Regions from separate parts of the Homo sapiens genome. Here all the other regions are linked to region 3. The links come from fine-mapping of genetic effects on plasma protein levels. A gene starts in region 3. Each other region holds a variant in brackets. All regions are shown on one strand. Distances are between the middles of the regions. Region 1 has its middle 55 kb from the start of LINC01441. Region 2 overlaps LOC107984001 (a long non-coding RNA gene). Region 3 holds the start of CBLN4 (cerebellin 4 precursor). Region 4 has its middle 69 kb from the start of MC3R. Region 5 has its middle 69 kb from the start of CBLN4.

The links. A credible set is the group of variants that fine-mapping cannot tell apart. PIP is the chance, under the fine-mapping model, that this variant and not a neighbour inherited with it causes the effect. The UK Biobank Pharma Proteomics Project read protein levels with antibody pairs (Olink). The fine-mapping took linkage between variants from a reference panel, not from the people measured, so its PIPs are less certain.
Region 1: its variant is the best candidate, but not a certain one, in a credible set for the plasma level of the CBLN4 protein (UK Biobank, PIP 0.51).
Region 2: its variant is the best candidate, but not a certain one, in a credible set for the plasma level of the CBLN4 protein (UK Biobank, PIP 0.72).
Region 4: its variant is the best candidate, but not a certain one, in a credible set for the plasma level of the CBLN4 protein (UK Biobank, PIP 0.71).
Region 5: its variant is the best candidate, but not a certain one, in a credible set for the plasma level of the CBLN4 protein (UK Biobank, PIP 0.71).

What each region holds. Positions count from the first base shown.
Region 1 is chr20:55,480,005-55,485,109 of GRCh38, reverse strand. No RefSeq gene overlaps it. Among named protein-coding and RNA genes, the nearest start is that of LINC01441, 55 kb to the right of the region's middle. The variant C/G (reference allele first, on the strand shown) is at 2,378.
Region 2 is chr20:55,712,956-55,718,060 of GRCh38, reverse strand. All of the region lies in intron 2 of LOC107984001 (a long non-coding RNA gene), which reads left to right. Among named protein-coding and RNA genes, the nearest start is that of LINC01441, 290 kb to the right of the region's middle. The variant C/T (reference allele first, on the strand shown) is at 3,101.
Region 3 is chr20:56,002,505-56,007,590 of GRCh38, reverse strand. CBLN4 (cerebellin 4 precursor) reads left to right here and starts at 2,072. Exons shown (of 3, transcript NM_080617.6): 1 at 2,072-3,710. The coding sequence starts at 3,420.
Region 4 is chr20:56,176,932-56,182,036 of GRCh38, reverse strand. No RefSeq gene overlaps it. Among named protein-coding and RNA genes, the nearest start is that of MC3R, 69 kb to the left of the region's middle. The variant T/C (reference allele first, on the strand shown) is at 2,716.
Region 5 is chr20:55,933,695-55,938,799 of GRCh38, reverse strand. No RefSeq gene overlaps it. Among named protein-coding and RNA genes, the nearest start is that of CBLN4, 69 kb to the left of the region's middle. The variant T/A (reference allele first, on the strand shown) is at 2,280.

The DNA.
Region 1 (5,105 bases), 520 kb after region 3:
TTTTACTGAATATTGTGTGTTAAAATACCTGGTACTAATATGCCTGGTACTAAAAATGTCCATTCTTCCTTTCTTTGCAAATAAAGGTAATAGTTTTCACCATTTCTAATCAGATGTGCTTTTTTTTTTTCCATTTAATAGTAAGGGATGATTTTTTAATGAAATGACTAAAACTCTTTGCCCATGCAATTTACCTAGATAAACGGTTATATTTGGGTACATAGAGAAGCTGAGTAACCATGTTGCCATTAATATCATTTTCTACCAGTGGACTCATTAAGTTTAATGGGGAAAATAGGTAACCAAACTGCAGGTCACACTGTTCCAGCCTGTTTTGTGCAGGGATGTGACCACTGCATGGCCAGATAATTTTCAAGGGAATCTAATTATGTAGATATTTATATGTCTGTGTATTGTTAAATATTGGCCAGAAAAACTTAAAGTAACAACCAACCTTCTGCAGCTGGCTAAAATGTAATAGAAACTGGATTCACTATACCCCCTTGAAACAACAAAAAAAAAAAAAAAAAAAAAAAACCTGGGCAGAGATAATACTTAATGCAATATTTTTCAAAGCATTGGGCATGCTTAACAAATAGTAATCTCCAAAAGGCAGGAACATGGAAAACCCGTTAAAGAAAAAGTGATAAATTTGACTTCAAAATTAAAAACTTCCGCTCTTCAAAAGACTACATGAAGAAAACAAAACGACTGGCACCTATCTGATAAAGTACGTGTGTCCAAAACATATAAAGAACTCTCCAAACTCAGTAAGAAAAGAAAGAACTCGACAGACAAAAGATTTGAACAGATTTCACCAAAGATATACAGATGGTAAATTAGCACATCAAAGGATGTTCAATATTATTATTAATGTGAATTAAAACCCCAATGAGTACCACTACAACCTATTACAATAGTTGAAGTTTAAAAATTGACAATACCAAACAATAAGTATGTGAAGGAATTAGAACACTAATAAAATGGTGATTAGAAATTAGAAGGTCACGACCACTTTGGAAACACAGTTTAACAGTTTCTTAAAAGCCTAAATATACCTATCATACGATCTAGCCATTCTACTCTTAGGTATTTACCTAAGAGAGAAAAATGTACACATTATTCTCTCTTAGGTAATGCTATTCTGTACAGCCTGTGGAACCATAAGCCAATTAAACTTCTTTTCATACAAACATTTGTGCACAAATATTCAGAGAAACAATTTGCAGTAGTCAAGTAATAGAAATAACCCACAAATCCATCAATAGGTATGGTAAACAAATTGTGGTATATCTATACAATGATATACTACTCAGTAATAAACAGAAATGAACTATTAATACCTGCTAAAACCTGATGGATTACAACATAATTATATTCCGTGAAAGAGAACAAAAAATAATACATCCTGTATGATGCAATTTTTATAAACCTTTAGAGAGAACTAACCTACAGTGATAGGAAACAGACTGAGGGTTGCTTAGGTAGGAGAGAGCTAATACAGAGAGGCATGAGGATACATTTGGAGGTGATGGATATGTTCACTATCCTGACTGTGGTGATGATTTTGCAGGCATACACATACACAGAATTCTATCAAATTCTACTTTTTAAATATATCTGGCATTGAATGTTAATTACACCTCAATAAAAAAATGTCATAAAACAGAAACAACATGAGTAAAAAACAAAAACAAAACACCATTCTGGCAAACAGTGATCCCTGGGGCTGTGAGTTTGCAAATTCTGACATCTATGTATATGACTTGCTTTTGGGGTAATACACAAATACATATACTAAAATGCAAAATGGAATGCTTGCTAATTGGAGGCTCTTTTGTTTGATTCTTTCAAGTAACACAGGTATCATTTCTAACTCTGTTGAACGGTCCAGACCAAGGTTCCCCTTTGTGAATGGTGTGATGGCCTCTTTTCAAGGTTTATGATTAAAGTCCAGAATCTCTCAATAGCAAATGATAGCATGCCAGGCAGAATTCGTTTTTCTTTTGATGTTCACACATAATTCCTATTCATAATAGAAGGAATTACGGGTTTAATAGTGTCCCGAATGTCTGCCGATGCAGTCCTTTTTTTAACATGACTTTTCCTTGTAGAAGAGATGCCCTCATTGATATTGTGCTTTTGTTTGCCAAAGGAGCGCAGAAGACATCTTTCTGAAAGATTTCACGACACTTAAAAAAAAAAAATGAAGACTTGCTCAGAGTTTTTTATAAATGTAGCGGTAGAAACTCATTTAAAACAGTAATTTATAATCTATGGATTGAAGGAACTGGACTTGGCAGAGTGTGAACAGAAAATAATTTTATTCTTTTTTTCTTCTGCTCCTTCAAACTCCTCTTCTGTGCTATCCCCTTTT[C/G]TATCCTGGATTAAGTCTTTTGCAAAACACGTCATTTTTTTAATGTTCCTTCAGTTAGAAGAAGAGTCATTTTGGTAAATAAAAAGCTCCATCCGTGCTATAGTAAACCACCAGTCCTTCAGCAATCTTAACTCTTCTCTCTCTCCATTCACTTGTAGACTGGGTTCTTCCTTCTTCCTCAGGGTCCCTTCCTCCTCACCAGCAGCTACGTATGGTTGCTATAGGGTTGGGTGCATGGAGGAGAGAGGAGTAATAAGAAAAATAAAGGTCTTGCCAGAGTGGAACTGTCTTAAATAAGTTTCTACTGCTTATTTAATTTTTTATTCTACCTCATACATTTATAAAAGACACTCTGAGGAGAGTTCATTTTTTTTTTTAAGTATTGTGAAATCTTCAGAAAGGTGTCTTGTGCACTCCTTTGGTGAAGAAAAGCACCATGTCAATGAAGGAACTGTTGTAATCTGGCTTTGGACCATCATCTCATCCGAGTGGAGGACCAATTTCTAGGGTATTCTTAAATCTCTTAGAGGGGTCCTTCTGGAGTGTCCAAACTTGTTCACTTGACAAGAACAATGCCTTCTTTATCATCAACTGGACTTCTTCCTCGGTGGACACTGGTCCTCTTGGCTGGGTCTCTTCTATTTTTTAATTTTAATTTTAATTTTAATTTTTTGAGACAGAGTCTCGCTCTGCTGCCCAGGCTGGAGTGCAGTGGCGCGATCTCGGCTCACTGCAAGCTCCGCCTCCTGGGTTCACGCCATTCTCCTGCCTCATTGGCTGGGTCTCTTCGAAGACAGCCCTGGAACAGCTCCCTTCGGGCATGGCAGGCAATGTCTGGTCCACACTCTCTTGCTCTACATTTAATGAAGGTACAGTCAGCTTGCAATGCACCTTGTTCTCTTTGCTCTATTACCCTCTCCCTTCCTCTTTAGATTCTTCCATTGAACATCAGATACTAACTCCTGTGTTCCCCAAACTTAAGGAGGGCATAGGTCTAGTTCCCAAAATGGTCCTTTTAAGAAAATCTTCGTCTCAGTTGGCTGAAGGTAAAAAAGACGCACCTTATTTTATTTTTCCATTGTGGTGTGCGGTTATAAAATACACAGCACAGCTACTGTTCTCCCTCCAATAGCCTGATCTACCAGCCCTTCATGTAGCTAGAATCTTATGCAAGTAATATGTGAGCAATGAACTACCTCTGGCAGAACCTCCAGGGTCATAATGTCCGCACAGCTGGTGAGAACTTTACTTAGAATAGGATTCCTATCATAAGGACTCCTCTTGTCCTGTTCTAAGCTTTGGAAAACAACCAAAAGGCAGCAGAAGGCAACCTTAGAAGTCATACTTAACTACACAAGTATCCACAGAAAAAGTGGTACAAAAAAGAATAATAGTCACAACTAGTCAGTGTCTTTCTCTTTGCCCTACTCTCCAGTAACCCAATGATGAGATTATACTCCAACTTTCAACTCAAAATTAGTTTTGTGAAAATCTAGTTTATAAGTTTTGAACCTTTTCTTACATTACCATTAATGAAAATTGGTAAAAACATGGCCTGGAATAAATTAAGCTTAGAATTTAAATGAATGTCATCTCATCTTCAGTTGTCAACAACATGCAAGTGAGGTAATTAAATCATCTCAGATTTTCTGTGCTAAAATATCCAAATGTTTAAGAGGAAAGTAGGTGGGTGGTATTGTGCTGTTTTTGTTTAATTTAAATTAAATAATTGGCCAAATTACCATTTCTTAAAAGACTCAGGGAGCTTAATCTGGATTCAATTTTCACTGCCTATTTAATAAGGCACATGTTCCAAGAACACGGGGCTAGACTGGGTACTTGCTGAACTGCCAGCTCTTTATACTAACTGTACTAGTCCATTCTCGCACTGCTATAAAGAAATACCCAAGACTGGGTAATTTATAAAGACAAGAGGCTTAATTGGCTAATGGTTCCACAGGCTGTACAGAAAGCATGGCTGGGGAAGCCTCAGGAAATTTACAATCATGGCAGAAGGCGAATGGTAAGCAGGTACGTCTCGTATGACTGGAGCAGGAGAGAGAGGGGAGCAGTGCCACTTTTAAACAACCAGAACTTCTGAGAACTATATCATGAAACAGCACTACAGGGACAGTGCTAAACCGTTAGCAACTGCCCCCATGATCCAATCACCTCCCACCAGGCCCCACCTCCAACAATGGAGATTACGACTGGACATGAGATTTGGGTGGAGACACAGAGCCAAATCATATTATCACCTTACGATTACATCTCTGTGATACGGTTTGGCTGTGTCCCCACCCAAATCTCATCTTGAATTATAGTTCCCATAATCCCCACATGTCATGGGAGGGACCTGGTGGGAGGTAATTGAATCATGGGGGCAGTTACCCCCATGCTGTTCTTGTGACAGTGAGTTCTCATGAGATCTGATGGTTTTATAAGGGGCTTTCCCCTCTTTGCTCGGCACTCATTCTCTCTCTTGCTGTCCCGTGAAGAGGTGCCTTCTGCCATGATTCTAAGTTTCCTAAGGCCTCCCCAGCCACGCGGAACTGTGAGTCAGTTAAACCTCTTTTCTTTATTAATTACCCAGTCTTCGGCAGTTCTTTATAGCAGTGTGAGAATAGACTAATACAGCTTTTTATTTTTTAAGTGGCATATTCAGGTTAGAGAACTCCTCTCAACAGCTTAGCTGGTGTCTGTCCAGACTTCCTTCATTTATACACAG
Region 2 (5,105 bases), 290 kb after region 3:
AATCCACCCCTGTGATCCAATCACCTCCCATCAGGCCCCTCCTCCAACACTGGGGATTACAACTTGGCATGAGATTTGGGTAGGGACACAGAGCCAAATGATATCAAACACATTACAGCTCAACTTCTCTCTCTGCTCAATCCTGTCTCCTACATTTCTTAGATGGGTGTTGCTCTCAAGGACTTGATGTGAGCAAATCTCCATCTCAGTCTGTTTCTCCACAAACCTGTTGAAAGGCAGGCATGCTACCCACACAGTTCCACAAGGCCTGATCCCTGATAGCCATTTTGACTTTATCACTCATTGGCCTGCTTGCCTTTTGTCAAATATGATAGGCTTTTTATCTCTCCTGCACACTCCACTTGGGGTTCCCTGTTCTACTCCATGGGTTCTGTCCCCAGACTGTTGCATGTCAGACTCAGGTCTCAGCTCAAATCTCATCTCCTCAATGAGGTCTTTCCTTGCCTGATTCTGTCCAGATAGTCACTGTTCCCTTTCTCTATTGCACTCTTCGTTGATTTTCCCTATATCCTCGTCACTAACTGCAACTATATTATTCATTTATTTCCTTTCCTTTTTTTTTTTTTTTTTTTTTTTTGAGATGGAGTCTCATCCTCTCACCCAGGCTGGAGTGCAGTGGCACAATCTCAGCTCATTGCAACCTCTGCCTCTTGAGTTCAAGTGACTCTCCTTCCTCAGCCTCCCGAGTAGCTGGCACTATAGGCATGGACCATCATCGTGCCTGGCTAATTTTTGTATTTTTAGTAGAAACAGGGTTTTGCCATGTTGGCCAGGCTGGTCTTGAACTCCTGAGCTCAATGATCCAGCAACCTCAGCCTCCCAAAGTGCTGGGATTATAGGCATGAGCCACCACACACAGCTTACTTACTTACTTTCTGATTGACTTTCTCTTTCTCTGGAAGGTTAAGTTCTTTCTGGAGTAAAATCTTATTTGTCTTCTTCACTCCTGAATCTCCAATACCTAGAATAGTATCTGTCACATAGTAAGCACTCATAATACTGGTTGAAGGAGTAAATTTTTAAAAAGGCAAAGAAAACAATAAATTACACTACCTATTTACTTAGCTTACAATTTTGCCTTATTTCTTAGGGAATATCCTTTCCAATTCCTTCTTATCTCTCACTGTTTTCTGCCTCCATAACTTCCATTTTCTGAGAGTTTAATAGAACATACTGTCTACAAGTATTGTTAAAATTAACTTTAATAATAAACAATAGCATTATTGTCTGTATTTCCTAGACACTTCATTAGCTGCTTTATTAACATGTAATCCTCACCCTTTGAGATAACTATTACTATTATTATTCTGCTTTTGTAGATGAGGAAACTGAAATTGAAAGAAGTTTCACAACTTGACCAAGATTATACAGCTTTTAAGTGGCAGCAGAGCTGAGACATAAACCCAGCTTTTCTTTTAAGGAGCTCATTATATGATTTCTAAGTTGATGCAATAAAAAAGCACATTCCATATTTAGATCCAAAGACCTGAAATATACCACTCTTGGGGCATGTAGTTTTGAACTTAGCCCCCTCGGACTCAGCTTTCTCAATACTAATTGGGGCTTAGATTAAACCTTGTTGCTGATATAAATTAAGTGATAATGTATATAGATACCTGGCCTGTGGAAGAAAATAAAAAAGTTCACTCCTCTTTGATATATGACACTATAATCACAGTACTACTTAGAATACCTAGACTACTTAGAATCTAGGGACATTTTCCGTTCTGCTTGTCAAAACTCTACATATTGTAGGAATGTCAATAACATGTGTATTCAACCATGTATATTGAACTACTCATATATATTTGAGGGAGTAGCATTAGAGGTAAGATCACAGGCTCTAGGGTGAGACAGAAGTAGAAGAGAATCTCATCCTTGTTGCTTTAAACCTATCTCCTCCTTCTGCCTCATGCCCTCCCACTTGCCTTGGCAGAGGGGTGTAAACCATGTATTTAATCTCTTGAATTCTACATTTCCTCATCTGTAAAATGGATTAAAATAAAAATTAAAATATTATCTGCCTAGCACTTAAGATTGGACCTTTGACAAGCTATTATTATTAATAGAAATAATAGTTGTGAATATTATTTGGTTATATTTCACAATAGAATATGTTTTTAAGTGGCCTTCTCATTATTATGGACACAAAACTATGACATCTCTAGAGTGAAAGAGATAGACAATGTGAACACCTTGAAAACAGGTCCACGGGCCTAAACTCAAACCCCAGCCCTATACCCCACTTTGTAGCCAAGGCTTAGAGCAATGCCAGGTCCACTGAGTGGCTTAAGAAACACATGTTAGATGCTGAATCTGGCATAGGACCTGCCCACATCAGACTCCCTGGGAAGCTTTTAAAACGATGGATGTTTAGGGTTACTCTTGGTGATTATGATTTGAGATCCCAGGACACCGCATATAGAAAGAAAACAAACAAGAACACCACAATTGATTCTGAGGCTCAGCTAGACTTGGAAACCACCTGTGATTCAACCACACTTGTGACACATGAATACCTTACCCTCTACCACTGCTGAGTGAACTCCCACAGTGACCGTGCACCCCACAGTGATGCCAATCTTATGCCCTTCACAGGGGCCTCTCCGCATGCTTATCCACTTTTTCTGGCTATTTCAGGTGGCCATATAGGTTGCATCCAATTTAGTGAGATCTTGGTGAACTAATCTATTTTAATAGTAAATAAAAGCTATACTTATTGTCTTAGAATTCTAGAATAATAGCATTGAAGGTGACCTTCATGATCTTTTTAGCTTCCAGATGAAGCCTACTTTCAAAAGATAGGATTCATCCACTTCCCCCCACACACCTACCCCTCCAGCTCTTGCCCATGAACTCACAGAGAAAATAAACCTGTTTTTTTTTTTTTTTTGAGAAATTGGAGCAATTCAGATTCTTATTCTAGTTACTGTCGCAGTAAGCAGAGTGTCTCCTGATTCATAAATTTCTCAGAATGCATTCCCAAACAGGAATTTGGATGTGAAATTATGAGAAAAAGTTCCCTGGCTTTTCTTTAATCTGGAAGAAAAATGACCGAGATTTAAGAGTAATTTTTTGC[C/T]GTATTTGCCTTTGATATAAAATACTCTTCTGCCTTCTTTTTATCTGAGAAATGGCCTTGGATGGAATTCTTCTCTTATTTTGGAGAAGTTCTTGCTGACACATTCGGGAAGGCCAGGCAAACAACTCGCTAGCACAGTTGGCAAGGATAGTACATCTCCTTCCACTTAACGTAATCACACCTCATTATATACAATTACTTCTTTCTACAGGAAAATTTCCTTGAAAGGTTAAAAAGTTGATCGCCGAAACTGGAGATTTCAGATTTTTCTTGTGTGGACAATGTGTAAATATAATAATTTGGTGAACCATATTTAGTTCAACATGTTTTATCCAAATAGACATTCCCTTCTGGCCTTCAAAAATATTTGATTTCTCACCAAATAACCATAATCAAGATTAACCTAAGTGAATGAATCCAAAAATGGAACCACATTTTCATATTTTAAAAAACCTACATTCTTTCTCTGTTATTTTGATCAGCCTGTGGTCTTGGTGCCTAGGTTCATTTGATTGTGATAAAGAAATAAAAGGAATTGATGAAACTCACTTGAAAAACTTTGGTATCAAATTGCACTGGGTAAAAGTAAGATAAGGGAGGAAAATTGCAAAGCAACAATTAAGCTGTCAAGACAACATTTTCCTGATTTTTGTTCATCCTATTCCCTGTCCTTTCCTTCTGTCAATCTCTCACTCAGAGATGTCTTTGCTTTTGTGATTGTGAAGTAGATGGAATAGTCTGTGAGGTCTTAGCAACAACTTCCTGTTGCAGAGAAAAAGTCAGAAGCCTTACAATGGCTGACAGCTCTTCCCCACCCATTTCCTGGCATCCCCTCTGTCTGGCTTATTTTTGCCAACTGCCTTTCTACTCCTTTATTCTATTCCAGCCATGCTGGTCTTCTTACTGTCCCTATAACATACCCGTCAGTTTCCTTTTAAAAAGCCATTGCTTTATTTTCTCTGGAATGCTGTATCCATGAGTCTCATTTCTTTCCTGTGTTGTCTTCACTAGTACTTCTTTCCTTAGCCTATTTTTCTGTCTTCCACAAAGGGAAAGAAAGCAGATCGGTCATTGCTTATTCTGTTGTCATCTACTACTGATAGCTCCTAGATTTCTTGTACTTCCAAATGATGTTCAGAAAAAGCTGTGTAAATAGAAACAACTTTGTGTTTAGATTTATTGGTGATTACTTCCTGTCACCATCACCACCAAATTAATTTTTAATTTTACAATATGCCAGAAAATAGGCAAAATAAATAATTGGGAGGAACACTGGGTTACAAAACAGGAGACTTTTGTAGGACATCCCAGGTTCTAACTATGTATTCTAAAATAATAGGGTTGCAGGTGACCTTTTTGACAATTTTAGGTTCAGATGAAGCTTTCTGCATGATGCATTCTAGAAGTTAATGTGTGGCATTTACCAAAGATTCCCATATATGGAAGAGACTTTAAAAGTCATATTATCCAATGCTTCCTTTACTACATACTCATCCAATTCCTCACTGCATAAACGAGTTCTATAAAGTCATTGCCAATTGTTTCTTCTCTTCTCAATTCTTCCAGGATTGGGGAGTCCATTATCACTTATTCAATTAATTTATCACATGTCTATTGAGTGCCTACTGCGTCCCTGGTTTTGTGTTATGTGCTGGGTACACAAAGAGAAATAGGACACAGTGAATGAATTTTACCTATAAGGATGGCACAGCAGACCGGATTATAGGAGAGTTTTAATTTAGTCTAAACCAAACACCAGATGGGCACTGTCAGGCTTTCTGTCAAAGTGAAACAAGAAATTGAGATTTTTAGATTATGTATGGCTGGGTATAAGCAACTTCATATGATTCAACCTGCTAGAGTAGCTCAAATACTTACTCCAAGCCTTAAAGACATCAAAATTCCTGCCTAGATATCTTTGAACTTTATCATAAATGGAGATCAGGATTGGCTGGAGGGCAGACTCACAAACGCTTCTAGCTCTGAGCTCTTACTTCCATGCAAG
Region 3 (5,086 bases):
TGTCTCATTAAGATTGCAGAGAGAAAATCTGGCAGCCCCAAGTCATCTGGCCAAGTTGGACCATACAAATCTTGGACTTCTGGTATCAAATGCATTGATGGTCCTAGAACCCAGGGGCTATCCGTGTTTAATCAACTGTTGTGGGAAAAAGAGTCAGGACCCTCTGATTCACAATATAAGATAACTTCTCTTAGCGGGGGTCCACAGAAAATGCTGTGTTCCTTATCTTCAGAACACTTTGAAGAGCAGAACATCCTTTAGTAAGGAACCGAGACCCTTATCCCCAATTATTAAGGAGGCTTTGAATTTAAATTTTACTGAGAGAGACTCATTTAAAGCAGTTTATACTATAATATGAGTGATAATTACCTTCTATTAGGAAGCATTCAGTCATTTCTCAATTATTGAGTCTTTACTATGGTCACTATGCAGATTTTGGGACTAAAAATGAATATTTTTGGTGAGAGAAAGAATAGGTTTCTTCAAATCTCAGTTCTTGCGTGCAGGAAGTGCCTGGAGAAGAAAAGGAGGTAGAGAGAATATATTGGAATTGGTGAGGAAGATAGCTTATTTTCTATTTAACAATTCAACACAGTTTTTTTTTTTTTTTTTTTTTTTTTTTTGTCAAACTTCTCCCAGCCTGAAATTGAACAACCAAAGTTCTAGTTATTGAACAGCTGTCCCAGACAAGGAAGGCAGGGTGCTTACCCCTACAGGAAATAAAAGGAACTAAATTCAACTCAGCACCCACCCTCAAAAGACTGCATCAAATGAGAAGAAATTGCTGCTGTTAACCAGGCAGACATCCCTAAAATCTGGAAGAGAGTTACAAAGTGCAGAGAGGGATCAGGTGAAGATTGTGCTGGGCTTAGGGTGGGGCATCAAAGCTGGGTAAATGGTGGCCATCTTCAGAAGGCACTAGTTCACCTTGTTTGGTTGTAGCTTAGATAGGTAACTTTCAACATTTTAACAAATAGCATGGTACTAGCACCTGCCAGCCGGAACTGACACCGGCCTGTAGTCTCAGCTACTGGGGAGGCTGAGGTAGTAGAATCGCTTGAGCCCAGTAGTTTTGCATCTAGCCTGGGCAATATAGCGAGACCACCCCCCACCACAAGTAAAATAAAATCATAAAGTCAAAACACCTGATACTGGCCCCACTGGAGCAGAATCTGAAGGCCCCTGTGGCACCAAGTATTAACACTTTAGTTGAGAGATTATAGGGAGGTGAGGGTTAGGGGATTCCTCGTAGTGTCTTCAATTTTAACAGTTGGAGCTGGTGCTTATAGCTCAATGCCCGGCCCTTCTGAAGGAAGGGAAAAAGGCTGGAGACGAGGTTCACCTTGTTTTGTGGAGGGCTCGAATGCCACGCTCATGAGGGCGTCCTTCACTCAGGAAGGAATGGGAGCCGTCCATCCCAAGGACCTCCCTCAATAAACATCCCTTCCATTCATAACTAGCCAATGCCATTTTAGGAGCTCCGAATGCCTGGAGGGGATACTGTTTTGGTTAAAGATACCATACGTGTCTGCCCTCTGGCAGCTGGAAGTGTAGAAGAAATTGGGGAAGGGGCGCCATGACCCCACAGCATCACAGAATTGGAAAGCTGGCGGGATGGGGGTGGGGAGGACCTTAGTTAACGCCGCGCCCCCCTCTCAGAGAGGGTTAGTGACTCGGCCAAGTTCACGCAGCCGGGTCCAGACAGAGACAAACCTCCCTTCCCCGTGGTAGCTGCAGAAGAGGAAGGGAACTCTTGCAAATCAGAGGCCAAGATAGCAGTGGAGTGGCACGGGGGCGGAAAGCGCATCCAAAGGGGAGAAAAATGCTGTATTCCTAGGAGTGGGATTGTCTTTTATTTTTATTTTTATTTTTATTTTTTTATTGTTGTTGGCACGGTTTCGGAGGACTTATTCTTGCTGAGTTAACTCCCTCTCCCACTCTTTTTTTTGGCCATGCCTGGGGAGGATTCGCGGTGTGGGGGGAAGGCGCGCCCCTGCGGCTTCTGAGGCTCATCTTCCCGGAGCGGAAGGAAGGAATCAGGCACCTCCTCCCAGCCGCCCCCACGGGCTCTGGTCCGCCCCAAGGCTTCCCTGAGCTCGCCAGGCCCCAGGGCTGTGTGGGGCGGGCTCCCGGCCAGGCGCGGTCGGGACGCCCGCCGGTCCCCAGGTTCGGGGCAGCGCGCAGCGCGGGTCCGCGGCGGCTTATCCTTTTTCGCGACCCGGCCTGGCAGCGCCGCGCTCCGCTTGGAGGGCACTCGGCGGCAGAGTTCCGCGCTGGGAGGGGTGAGGGGACCAGCCGCCTCCTCTGCGGACTCAGATCGAGCAGGAGAGAGTGGGCGCGGAGCTGGGGCCAGCGCAGGGCCGTGGGCTCCTCTCTGGGCACGCATCCTTTACGCCACGGGCTTTCAGGGGCTGAGGGGCCTCGAACCTTGCCAATCACCAGTGCTGTGCGCCCCGCTTGCTTTGGGGTGCGTTAAACGTCAGGAGAGAGCTGCTCAGATGGGGTCACCAGACGCCTTCTCCCCCTTTTCTCGGAGCCCGCGGGTTGCGCGATAAGCCAACCCAGCCGGACGCTGCGCTCCTATAAATAGAGCGCGTGTGCCCGCTTCGCGCTCTCCGGGCTGCACGAGGGACGAGAAAGTTGTGCGCAGGGACTGGGGGCGGGCGGCCAGGCAGGAGAGGACCCCGCCGGACCAGCCGCCCTGAACGCTGCGCCCGGCGCCCTGGACCTGATCCTGCGAATCCGCGCTTTCGGTGCGAGGGACCTGGCTAGCCGCTGCCTCCCTCCCTACCTCTGGGTGACACCAGGTTTGGGGGATTTTTTTGACCAGGCGAAAGTGGGAGTCGCTGGCGTCCTGGCCATGAACACAGCCTCGCGTTCTTCTCAGCCTGGGAAGGACCTTCTGCCTCTGTAACTCGTCCCTGCCGCAAGCCAGACAGGACTGGCACCCGCGCCGCTGGGCACCCGCCACCCTTGTGGCTTCTCTTTGAGTCCCCTCTTTTTGTTCCTGCTCCGTGGTTTAGCTGGTGGTGCTTGAGTTTGGGGTGAGAATTTATTATTATTATTATTTTTTGCCTTGAGGTGTGAATGTGAGGGTTTGATGACTTTCAGATGTCTAGGAACCAGAGTGGGTGCAGGGGCCCCAGGCAGGGCTGATTCTTGGGCGGAGGAGAGTAGGGTAAAGGGTGCTGCATGAGCTCCTTAAAGGACAAAGGTAACAGAGCCAGCGAGAGAGCTCGAGGGGAGACTTTGACTTCAAGCCACAGAATTGGTGGAAGTGTGCGCGCCGCCGCCGCCGTCGCTCCTGCAGCGCTGTCGACCTAGCCGCTAGCATCTTCCCGAGCACCGGGATCCCGGGGTAGGAGGCGACGCGGGCGAGCACCAGCGCCAGCCGGCTGCGGCTGCCCACACGGCTCACCATGGGCTCCGGGCGCCGGGCGCTGTCCGCGGTGCCGGCCGTGCTGCTGGTCCTCACGCTGCCGGGGCTGCCCGTCTGGGCACAGAACGACACGGAGCCCATCGTGCTGGAGGGCAAGTGTCTGGTGGTGTGCGACTCGAACCCGGCCACGGACTCCAAGGGCTCCTCTTCCTCCCCGCTGGGGATATCGGTCCGGGCGGCCAACTCCAAGGTCGCCTTCTCGGCGGTGCGGAGCACCAACCACGAGCCATCCGAGATGAGCAACAAGACGCGCATCATTTACTTCGATCAGGTCAGACCCGGGGGGAAGCGAGCACCTAGGGGGTGGGCGGTCTCCAGGCACCTCAGCACGAGGCTGCCTGCCCAGGCTAAGCTGGTCCGATTGGGAAATGGGGAATCATGTAAAGCACTCGCCTTCCCAAATATGCCTGGGTCTGAAACTTCTACCGTCCCTCTTCCTACCCCTCTCACCAGCCCCGGCTCCCATTTCTTCCGGGCCCCTAAAAGAGGCTGCTGCGGCGGCGGGGGAGAGGCTTGGGAGCCCAGAGCCCGGCAGCGAGAGCTCAGGGCAAGTTTCGAGCAACAGGTCGGCGGGAGCCGAAGGGCACCTGGTCCCTGGACGTCGTTATCTCTTGGCCAGATCTTGGTGCCCTTGCTCAGACTCCTCTGCGGGTGCCGCTGAGGCTGCTCCCTGGGTACCTTTGCGGAACAGGATAAATGTTTGATTTGTTTCTCCCAGGTAGAGAAGCTTCTCTCCCAAGAGAGCCCCGGGCTTCCACACTCTTCAGAGATCGGGCAGGTGGCCGCGGAGGGCGGGGGCAGAGCCGGGGGTCAGATCTCGCCTGCAGGTTCCACTGTTCGTGTGCCAGGCACCGCTGGCACTGCCGCTGCCTCGGAGTAGGCAGCAAGCCCTTCTCCGGTACTTAGAGAAAAGTTGCGGAGGAGGGGAGGAAAAGGAATTTGGCAACTGCGCTGAGCTCCTGTAGGAAAGCGCTTGGGAGCCAGTTCTCCCTTCCCGGGCTCATGTCCTTTCAGAGAATTGCAAATAGCTGGGGAAAGACAGACTTTGAGGTTGATGAGAGTAGGGGAAGAGCTGACGGAAGCTGTAGCTGCTGTTTAGCGACCTGGTGCTCCGTGTTTGGCTTGATGAGAAACCCCAGGATATCAGCTTACCTTTAGCAAGGGGTCTTAAGGGAGAAAACTGTCCTCAGAGTTTTTAATTTCAGCCCCAACAGTATCCAGAGTCTTTTTAAATTCCAAATTCACAGTTCACAGTTGTATGCAAAGCTGCAATGTGCAGGGGGCACAGGTTAAGTGGTGTTGCAGGATGTGCCAGGGAAAGCACGAGGTGACATCTGTATTCCTTGCTTAATTTTTCCTAACTAATGCACTCTCCAGCTGGCCAAAGACAGAGAATGCCTCTCTAGGGGCTTAGTATTTGATAGACATAATTTTTAAAGAATTAAGTAGCTCCATTTGGGGTTTTGGTGCAGTATTTTCCATCTTGATGGAAATAAAGTCTAGCACCACCCCTAGTTTGTATTTCAATGCTTTAATTAAATGTTGGAATACTGTGGGCATTGCACTATCCTCTATACAGGGTGTTCCTTTCAATGACCTTTCCATCAATTAGAAGAGGAAAAGGGTTTGTTCTTCTTTTCAGTGAGC
Region 4 (5,105 bases), 170 kb before region 3:
TGGTATTTAATTTCTGGTTTCATTTCCTTTTCACTGGTGATGCTGAACATATTTATATATATATTTACTTGGCATTTGAAACTTTTATTTTTGTTTGTGTTCTTATATCCTGTACCAATTTTTAAATCAATTTCCCCATCAATTTTTTCAAAAATGTACCTTCTAAGTTATTTCCAGTAAATCCAAGCACAGAATTTTTATTAGAAGCAGGTACCAAGAAAGCTTTGTTCCCATTGCTCGCACTGGGTGTCAGTGTTCACCTGCTTAGTGACTAGAGAACCATCCTGGGTGAAATGGAAGGAAGTGTGTGACTAAAATTTATAGATGTCACCTGCCTCTCCTTTCACTTGCTTCAGCATATGACACACAAGAAATGACCTCATTCTATAGGCAATCCAATCCCCTGTGCATAAATATATTTCTTAAATGAAACAGATCAAAATTAGGTCAAATGACAGCATGCCCCTCTTGGCCTTTTTAAAAAAGATGCCAGAAAACACACCTTTTATTTTAAACAATGCAGGCAGAGGATTGAAAACCAGCTATGTTTAAAGATCTTCAAACTGATCTGCACATAGAATAAGATCTGCACATAGACTCTTTTGGGCTGGGTGTGGTGGCTCACACCTGTAATCCCAGCATTTTGGGAGGCTGAGGCAGGAGGATCACTTGAGCTCAGGAGTTCAAGACTAGTCTGGGCAACATAGCAAAACCCCCTCTCTATGAAAAATACAAAGATTAGCCAGGTGTGATATCATGTGCCTGTAGTCCCAGCTACTTGGGAGGGTGAGGCAGGAGGATCGCTTGAGCCCAGGAGGTTGAGGCTGCAGTGAGCCGAAATCGCGCCACTGAATCCAGCCTGGGTAACAGAGCGAGACCCTGTCTTAAGAAAACAAAGACTCTTTCGCCTTGGACAACGAAATATTTCCTCTTGATAAGAAATCTGTTGATTCTAAAATATGCATTTGGTTTTGGGTAAGATTGTGGGAGGGGCATACAATCAGATTTTTCTCTTTTCATCTGTAAACTTTCTGTTTTCAACCTGCAGGTTCACTTTTTTCTCCTTTGCTATTTTTTGGTGAAAAAGTCACTAAGTGAGTTATATTTATTAAAACCTAATCCGCTATTTTTTGGTGAAAAGGTCACTAAGTGAGTTATATTTATTAAAACCTAATCCTTCATAGGAACAGATATCTACTTTAAAAAACTTTTTGACTATAATATGCATATCACAGTGCCTAAAGCAAAAGCGCACAGCTCAGATTTTTACATGCTGAAACACCCAAGTAACAAGCATTAATGTCAAGAAACAGAACTTGACACCATTGCCTCTGTTCCATCAACCCAAAGATCTCTTTGCAGTCACTCCTCCCCTAGTCCCACCAAAGGTCACCACGTTCCTCACTTTTGTCTCTGAAGGTGATTAGTTTAGCCTGTCTTTGTACATTATGTTAATGAATACAAACAGCACGGGCTCTTTGAGTCGGCTTCTTTCTCTCAATATTGTTTGTGAGATTCATCTGTATTGTTGAGTATAGTTGTAATTTCTTTTCATTGTGGTATACTATTCCATTGTGTGGATATGCAATGATGTATTTTATCACTGAGGCACAGTCGAGAAGTTTCTAGTTTTTGGTTATTGTAGTACTGCAAAGAATATCCTACTCCATGTCTTTGGGGAAAGTTGCATAGTTCCTGGGTCCTAAGGTAGCACATGCTACCAAAGACAGCTTTCCAAAGCAGTATGAATTGATACCCGCAACATCAGCATTTGAAAGTTCCAGGTGCTCCAAGTTCTCAGTGGCACTTGGCATTTTCTGTCTTTTCCATCGTAATCATTCTGGTGGGAATAACGTGTGAGGTCTGTTTACTAAGGTCAGTTATTTAGTATGGGGGTGTTGAGGTTTCAAAACATGACCCTGGCCTACCTGAGACATCAAAGAAATGCAGCATTTGAAAAAAGAAAGCAGACGTGAAAGAAGCAATGCCTAGAACTTAAAACATTTATTAGCTTTCACACTTCTAGTGAGGAAAAAGTGTAAGTGAAATTTTACTCTGTTGGAAGACATTTTTTAAAGACCCCTCCCCCTCATCCACATTAGTGGGAAAATAAAAAAGAAAGTGTCCTTTGCTTTTTTCTTAATTTTCAAAATGCTAACTGCTGTTTTATTCTGATTATTAAAAACCCATGCCTATTATAAAATGTCAAATAACTTTGGGAGGCCAAGGCGGGTGGATCACGAGGTCAGGAGATTGAGACCACGGTGAAACTCCATCTGTACTAAAAAAAAAAAAATACAAAAAATTAGCTGGGCGTGGTGGCAGGCGCCTGTAGTCCCAGCTACTTGGGAGGCTGAGGCAGAATGGCGTGAACCTGGGAGTCAGAGCTTGCAGTGAGCTGAGATCATGCTGCTGCACTCCAGCCTGGGTGACAGAGCGAGACTCCGTCTCAAAAAAAAAAAAAAAAAAAAAGTCAAATAATATAATACAATAGAACGCGAGAAAACATCTCCTGAAACATCATGGATGGTAATATGACCCAATTGCTGATTGAGTCTCTTTTCCTCTACGCTGTTCTTAAATATAGTTAGGCTCAACAGTTTGACCTTTTCAGGAGAGGAGGGAAATGTGGCCACTTTGCAAAAAAAGGTGGGTGACCCCCGCCAAAGCTTCCCCATCCTGAGAAACAGGGAGGCAGAGGGAGGGGCCCAGTGC[T/C]ACCAGAATGCTCCTGGCTCTGTTTTCCTGAAGTGTGAGCCAGCTGGCAGGGAGAGTTCCAAATTCCTGGTAAGACGAGTCTTCTCCAAAGCCCAGAGTCATCCACAGAGTTATTTCCCCAGAGGAGGTTCCTGCTGCCAGGTAGTACCTGGGGCAGCAGGAACTCGAAACAGTGGCACCTGGAGTGTCTGTGGACTCCCATGGGCAGGTGCCGATGCTCCCTGGGTCTCATTGACTGTGTGGGAACTTCAGCCCACATTCAATGTGCTTAGATTTAGGGACCCGCTTAGCACATGATGGTTGGGTTTTAATACATTCATCAGAAAGTGTGATCTGAAACCACAGCCCCCACTTCACCCACACAAAACCACCGTGAGCCTTCAGGTAAGCACTCTTCCAGGAGTCTCTCTGAGCCTGAGTGCTCACCTGACGTGGCAGAGTTTGGCTCTTTATGCAGGGAAGTGGGGAGTGGCATGGGGGGTGGGAAGTTGCTGACAACTGAGATGGACTGATGAGTACTTTCTCTGATAGGATGAGGGCTGAGTGTGTCAGTGAGGGAGGCAGAATGTGTGGTGTGAAGTGGATTCTGCCTCCAGGAGCTGGCAGTGTCACTGGGGACAGAGGATGTAAAAATGTGAATCAGACTCAGCTTCGTCGTATCAGTGCTGAGAACATCAGGGGATATTTGGTTGTAAGGGCTGGGTTAGTCTAGGAAGGCTTCTTGGAGGAAGTGGACCTTCACGGCTATGAAATCCGATGTCTTAGATACAGTTTGGTGCATGCACCATTGGACCATAGTGGCCACGCAGAGCTGGGCCCACAAACTCCTTGGGTTTGGCTAACTGAGGCTTTTACCACCTACTAAATCACACTGAAACCTGCAGCTTCCTTCACTCCCTGCTAGGTTATTTAAGGGCAGTCAAACTGCATTCCTGCTGCTTGCCACAGTCCCCGACAGGCTCCAGGGGTTAAAAATGCAATTCAAACAAATTTCAAGTCCCTCTGTGGCTCAGTTTAAGCGTAGAGATGGAATTACAGAAACACAGTAGAGACCAAATTAAAAAGAGACTCTACTATGCGTTTCTCTTTTCTAGGACAGAGTAAGTGTTTTAATTTATAGCTCCCAGAAAGACTTCTTGCAGATTCTTTCGTCCACTCCTCACTCCTGTCCTCCCGCATGACTCTCCCGACACTTTCTCCAGGATGAGCCAGTCTTGGTTCTGCTCTTCTCTTTCCCTAAGATGTTCTCAGTTTGGTTCCCAATCCAGTCTTTTTTTTTTTTTTTTTTTTGAGATGGAGTCTTGCTTTGTCACCCATGCTGGAGTGCAGTGGCATGATCTCGGCTCACTGCAACCTCCGCCTCCCGGGTTCAAGCTATTCTCATACCTCAGCCTCCTAAGTAGCTGGATTCACAGGTGCCCGCCACCACGCCTGGCTAATTTTTGTATTTTCAGTAGAGACAGGGCTTCCACATGTTGCCAGGCTGGCCTCGAACTCTTGACTTCAAGTGATCCACCTGCCTTGGCCTCCCAAAGTGCTGTGATTACAGGCACGAGCTACTACACCTGGCCCCAATCTAGTCTTTATTTCCTTTCTTTGGGGTGGGTAGGAGAATAAATAAAATATAAACTGCATTTGGATCTCTTTCAGTATTATTGGAGAGATGCAAATAAATAATGAAACTGGTATTAATCACATTTTGAAGCTAAATGATGCTTCCTGAACTTGATCTTGCACTGACACTGAACCATATGTGCCCCAAGATTTATAAGGTTTATGTAAAAGGCTCGTTTTACAGATTTCCTTCTGAAGTTCCCTGTGATAAATTCTCATCATCTCCTATCACCCCGGATGCTCCCCTGATCCCCTGAAGGGTCGTAGGCATTGTCTCTTAAGGAAAAGGGAGGAAAAAAGGAGCAAGAAGTTGGTTAAATTCTTCTGGATAAGAATCTAATGAGAATATGATTCGATGAGAGCTATATATGGGCACCTCACCCAGTTCATGAACAGATGAAGTGGGGTGCAATTCTGGGGTCCACTGACCCTGTGAGGCCCATCTGTGTGCTACTGGGAGAGTGGGCTGGGGGCTTAGAGGTTCCCACAGACCTCATTTTGGTGTTGCTATGAGCATTTGCACAAGTCTCTTAGATCCTTGCTGGATGGTGAAGTCTATGAGAACAGGCACAGGCTTTTCTTGCTATCTTCTTGTTAGCACAGAGCTCTCTCTAAGCCACTCTCAAGTAATTGATGACTAATTGAATAGGATGAGGAGCAAGGAGAGTAGAGGCCCCCAAATGAGTTGGAAGCTGCGTGCTGCAGATAATTTCTTCCACTTGGGCCATCAGGGAAGGATGAACACAGGATGTGGCTATTGAATGGAGCTCACCACT
Region 5 (5,105 bases), 69 kb after region 3:
ATACCCTAAAACTTAAAGTATAATAATAATAAAATTTAAAAAAAAAAGGTAGTTTGTTACAGTCCTCATGCAAGGGGCATGTCATGCCATGGGGGGCCTTGTGGGGGAGCACTAGGGCTGATCAGAGGCAGAGGGAGAAGAAAACGGTGGGTAGAGCCTTTGTTGTGGTTTCCATGGGAAGCAACAGGGAAGGCAGGGTCAGCAGGCTCAGGATTGGCTAATTTGAATAATTTCAGCAGACCCTGGGCATGGAGGCTGTCTTTAGCTGTCTGGTACCTGGCTCTGGGGTAATTAGGGGAGGTGAATAGTGGCCTGAATGGTGTGATCCTGATAAGAGGGATGACAGGAGTGTGAACTCTGAACTGGTGGGTTTGCATTTGAAAACATGCCCCAGGAGGAGGACTCCTCCCAAGGAGGGGAGGTGTTGATGATGAGGGAGGTAGGAGACCAAGGCGAGGTGACTTGGGCATATCACCTTATTGTCCAGAACGAGTGGTGTCAGCATATGCACATAGGGCAGATGTTAAAGCACGGAGCTTACAAAAGCTAGAAACATAGTTAGGAAAGCCCTGAAGAAGAGATGTATAAAGGGGTAAAACAGTGGAGTGGGGAGCAAAAGGAGGAAACGTGGAAGAACAGAGTCATGGACTTGACTCTTCTAGCCTATCCATGGGATTGTGTGCTTTCATTTTGCTTTACCAAGACCCAATCTCCTATTTATAAAGGCGGGACATTTTACTAAACCAATATTTACCAAGATAGGGGACATATCACTAGTGCTGCATTAGATGGCTTCAGGCAAAAAACAGACATACCATTAAATAACATTACATCATACAAGGTCATTTACCTTCCAGTTTCTTTCAGTCTTTCTAATTGCCCCATGGGGACAGTCTCAATTTAGCACTGCTCTGCTGTTAACAGCTCTTTAACACTTGCTACTTTCATTTCAACAAAAAATAGATCTCAGGCTCAGATACTTTGACAGGCTTCCGGTGGCTCCAGGCATTCCTTGGCTTGTAGGTACATCCCTCCTATCTCTGCGTTTCTCTTCACATGGTCTGCTCTGTGCATCTGAGTGTCCTCCTGTCTTCTAAGGATTGGATTTAGAGCCCACAACAAATTCAGCATTTCATCTTGGGATCCTGAACTGATTATATCCGCAAAAGCCCTATTTCTAAGTAAGGTCACATTATGAGGTTCTGAGTGACCCTAAGTTTTGCAGGGACACTACATCAACAACCAAGGAAAGCCAGGAATCTGATAAATTAAGCAAGAAATGTCATGAGACGGGCCTGCATGGGCACTGTGGGTGGCAGCTGGCAGTGCACCACACACTGCAGTGTGGGCGTCTCAGAAATTCATCCTTTTGTCTTTGGTTCTTTCCTTGCAAGGCTATGAGCCAGAATACAGGGTCACTTAGAGTTAGATGGGGAGCAGAAATCTGTATCCCCCTTCAGCATACATTTGAAAAATCAAGACCCTGCCCTGTAATTTGGACTTCCTCATAAAGGAAGGATTTTCAGAAGTTTCAGTATTAGGGTTCTCTAAAGGGACAGAACTAATAAGACGTATGTATATATAAAGGGGAGTTTATTAGGAGAATTGACACACATGATCACAAGGTGAAATCCCATAATAGTCCATTTGCAAGCTAAGGAGCAAGGAAGCCAATCCAAGTCCCAAAACCTCAAAAGTGGGGAAGCTGACAGTGCAGCCTTCAGTCTGTGGACAAAGGTCCAAGAGTCCCAAAGCTGAAGAACCTGGAGTCCAGTATTCGAGGGCAAGAAGCATCCAGCATGGGAGAAAGATGGAGGCCAGAAGACTAAACCAGTCTAGTCTTTCCAGGTTCTTCTGTCTGCTTTTATTCTGGCCGCACTGGCAGCTGATTAGACGGTGCCCACCCAGATTGAGGGTGGGTCTGCCTTTCCCAGTCCACTGACTCGAATGTTAATCTCCTTTGGCAACACCCTCACAGACACACCCAGGAACAATACTTTGCATCCTTCAATCCAATCAAGTTGACACTGGATATTGAACAACAGAGAAGTCAAGCATGCAAAAAATGACAAATGTGTACAACAGCTAGTAATCAGCTAGCTTTAATATCTTTTTCCTCATTAGCTGTATTTTTACCATTGTATTTTATTCATGTGATACTGTTTTTTCACTTACGGTACTACTTTGTAAATTAAATTTATTTTGGTAAAAAGCAGTACTGTTTTACAAATAGATACGAAGTTGACAACAGTATAGAGATGCTACGTTGCTACAGCCAG[T/A]TATGTAGTGATACTCAGATATTATAAAATTCACAAAGGTTTTGGGGGAGGGAGGAATGTCCACAGTCCAAGCTTAACTGGAGTATTTCCAGCCCAGACATTTCCAGACCTTATGATTCTTTGCACTCACAGCTATTTGTTTAGAAAGACTTAGATATCATGAGCCTTGGGGTTATATATCTATAACTCAGCATTTCACAAAGAACTGAGAACAGACAATTCATAAGCTTCAGAGGTTTCAGCAAAGCACTGCAATGCTTGTGTGTTTTAGGTGAGTTTTCCAGTCAGTGCTATTTTAACAAATACCAGGAACTCTATTTGGACTGGCTCCTATATCTTCAACAACCTACTGGGCATTGTCACCTGTATATCTTGCTGTTACCTCAAATTTAGCAGGTGGAGAAACAAATTCATCATTATGCCCCCAAACTTGTATCTACTCCTGACTTCTCTGACATACACGCTCAGCCTGCCAAGCCTGCAGCCTTGGAGAATTTCTGACTCACTCTTCTCTGGCATCTCCTAAATGTATCCACTCACTGCATCTTATTGAATTCCCCCTGGAGGGTTTCTTGTATCTTTCCTTTCCTTTCAGCTGTTACTGTCTTATTCTAGGCATGTACCTGTTCTTTTTCTCTAGCTGGGGTCTCTAATCCTCCCTTCACGTTACTGCAATGTACCTTCAGTTTGGTTACAGCTGTCTCTTGTCTGTTATCAGTAGTGCCAAGAGGTAGCTGGGGTGAAATTTAGCCCTTGATAATTTCTAACAGCCCCACAATCCTAAATAAGCAAAAGATCTCGTCCAAAGAGTGTCCTTGCTCAAGAACTCAGGAGCTCAAGAACAGTTCTCTTGCACAATCTTCCAAAAATATCATCACTCTTCCAGTTTTCCTACATGGATGTTTTGGAGCCAGCCTTGCCTCTTAGTGTTCTTTGAGTATACCACACTTAGGGCTTTCTCTTTCCATCCCAATTTTCTTCCCCTTTCCATTTGGAGTTCCCTTCTATTTCTTGATCTTTGTCCTTAATAATCACATGAAGGCCTAGTATAAAAAGAACATTAGCTGTGAACTCAGAAGAAATAGGAACATTTTGAACTTCGCTCTCATTGCCATTTGTTCCTGGAGAGTATTTTTAAGACAGAAAATTTTGAGTGGCTAAACATTTGCATTTTTTGTTTATTTTTTCCCATTCCTTCCCAGTTAATTTGCATTAGGATGCATCTGTTAAGCAAACATACCCAAAGCCCAGGACTAGTTACAGCCCTTGGTAAACAAGGTAGGAAAGGCAGAGAACATCTGTTTGCCTCTAGCTGGTAAGATTTCTGAGGTTTGGTGTGGGACACCAGCTGTCTTGCAATGTCCCGATTTATCACTGCTTATGGAAAGATGCTAATGCTCCAAAATTGACTAGAGCTGGCAAGGATAAGATGGGAGGAGACAGCACTTTGGACCAAGGGCAGAGATGGTAGCTGCAGCCTGTTTCTTAGGAGAAGGTTCCGTCCCTCTCTTCAGCCTCAAAAAGATACAGTGCATCAGGGCCTGTGTTGGGAAGGGGAAGAACATACAGGCATGGACTTGGGAGTTTGGAAACTAAGATCTCTGTGATTGTGTCTCATATTAATTCTGAGTTGACCTGGGGAATTTCTGGCACTCCTCGTTATGGGATACACTGGAAAGATAATAAAATATCCTGCTATTTGGCAGGTAAATGGGCTCCCTTTTATTAACATTACTTCGGGAACCTAAGGACCATCACTCTAGGTGTTTTCAAGCACTTTTAACTAATTCCGACCTGTCTTAGGTTGGTATACATTTAACCTTCTCCATGACGACCTCTCTGGATATTCCAGAATTCATTGTTTCTTACTTCTCCAACTTCTGTAACTTTACCCCTCTTATTCATAAGTAAACCATTTGGCTGGCCTATCCCACCAGAAGTTCCTCTGGTCAACTCGACGTGACCAAAAACATATAATTTAGTACTTAAATCGAGTACTCAAATGTACTGGCTTATGTTGTTAGTTTCATTTTCTCACTGTGCAGAGTTTGGTCTCTTCAAATAAAATACAACTTCTTTAAGGGCAAAGATGATGGCATTTGATCCCATGCCTTTTACAAAATACTCCCTACTTCTTAGCGAAGTGTTGAGTACATAGCACAGAACTCAATAAATACATTTCTAATTCATTTATCCTACAAATAATTTTTTCTGTCTCAATTATATCTTAGCCATTAAGGTCAGTGCTGGGTCTACAACCATAAACAAGACAGAGAAGATTCCTGCTGTCATGGAGGACAAGAATAACAAGCAAGAGCACACATGAATCATGTAATTAAAGTTTGTGATTTTCACTCTAAAGAAAATAGAGTGGCTGTTCCAGCCAGGCGGGGTGGCTCATGCCTGTAATCCCAGCACTTTGGGAGGCCGAGGCTGGCAGATCACGAGGTCAGAAATCAAGACCACCCTGGTCAACATGGTGAAACCTTGTCTCTACTTAAAAAAAAACACAAAAAATTGGCTGGGCGTGGTGGTGCCTGCCTATACTCCCAGCTACTCAGGAGGCTGAGGCAGGGGAATCACTTGAACCTGGGAGGTAGAGGTTGCAGTGAGCCAAGATAACGCCACTGCACTCCAGCCTGGTGACAGAGCAAAACTCTGTCTAAAAAAAAAAAAGAAAGAAAATAGAGTGGCTGTTTCAATAGGCAGGGCCTGGATTAGAGGGTGCGGCAAAGTAAGGCACTGCATGGAGGTGGTATTGGAGAAAAGACCTGAAGGGTGAAAAAGACAGAAATGCAAAATTCCAGGGCAAAGAAAATGTCTTAG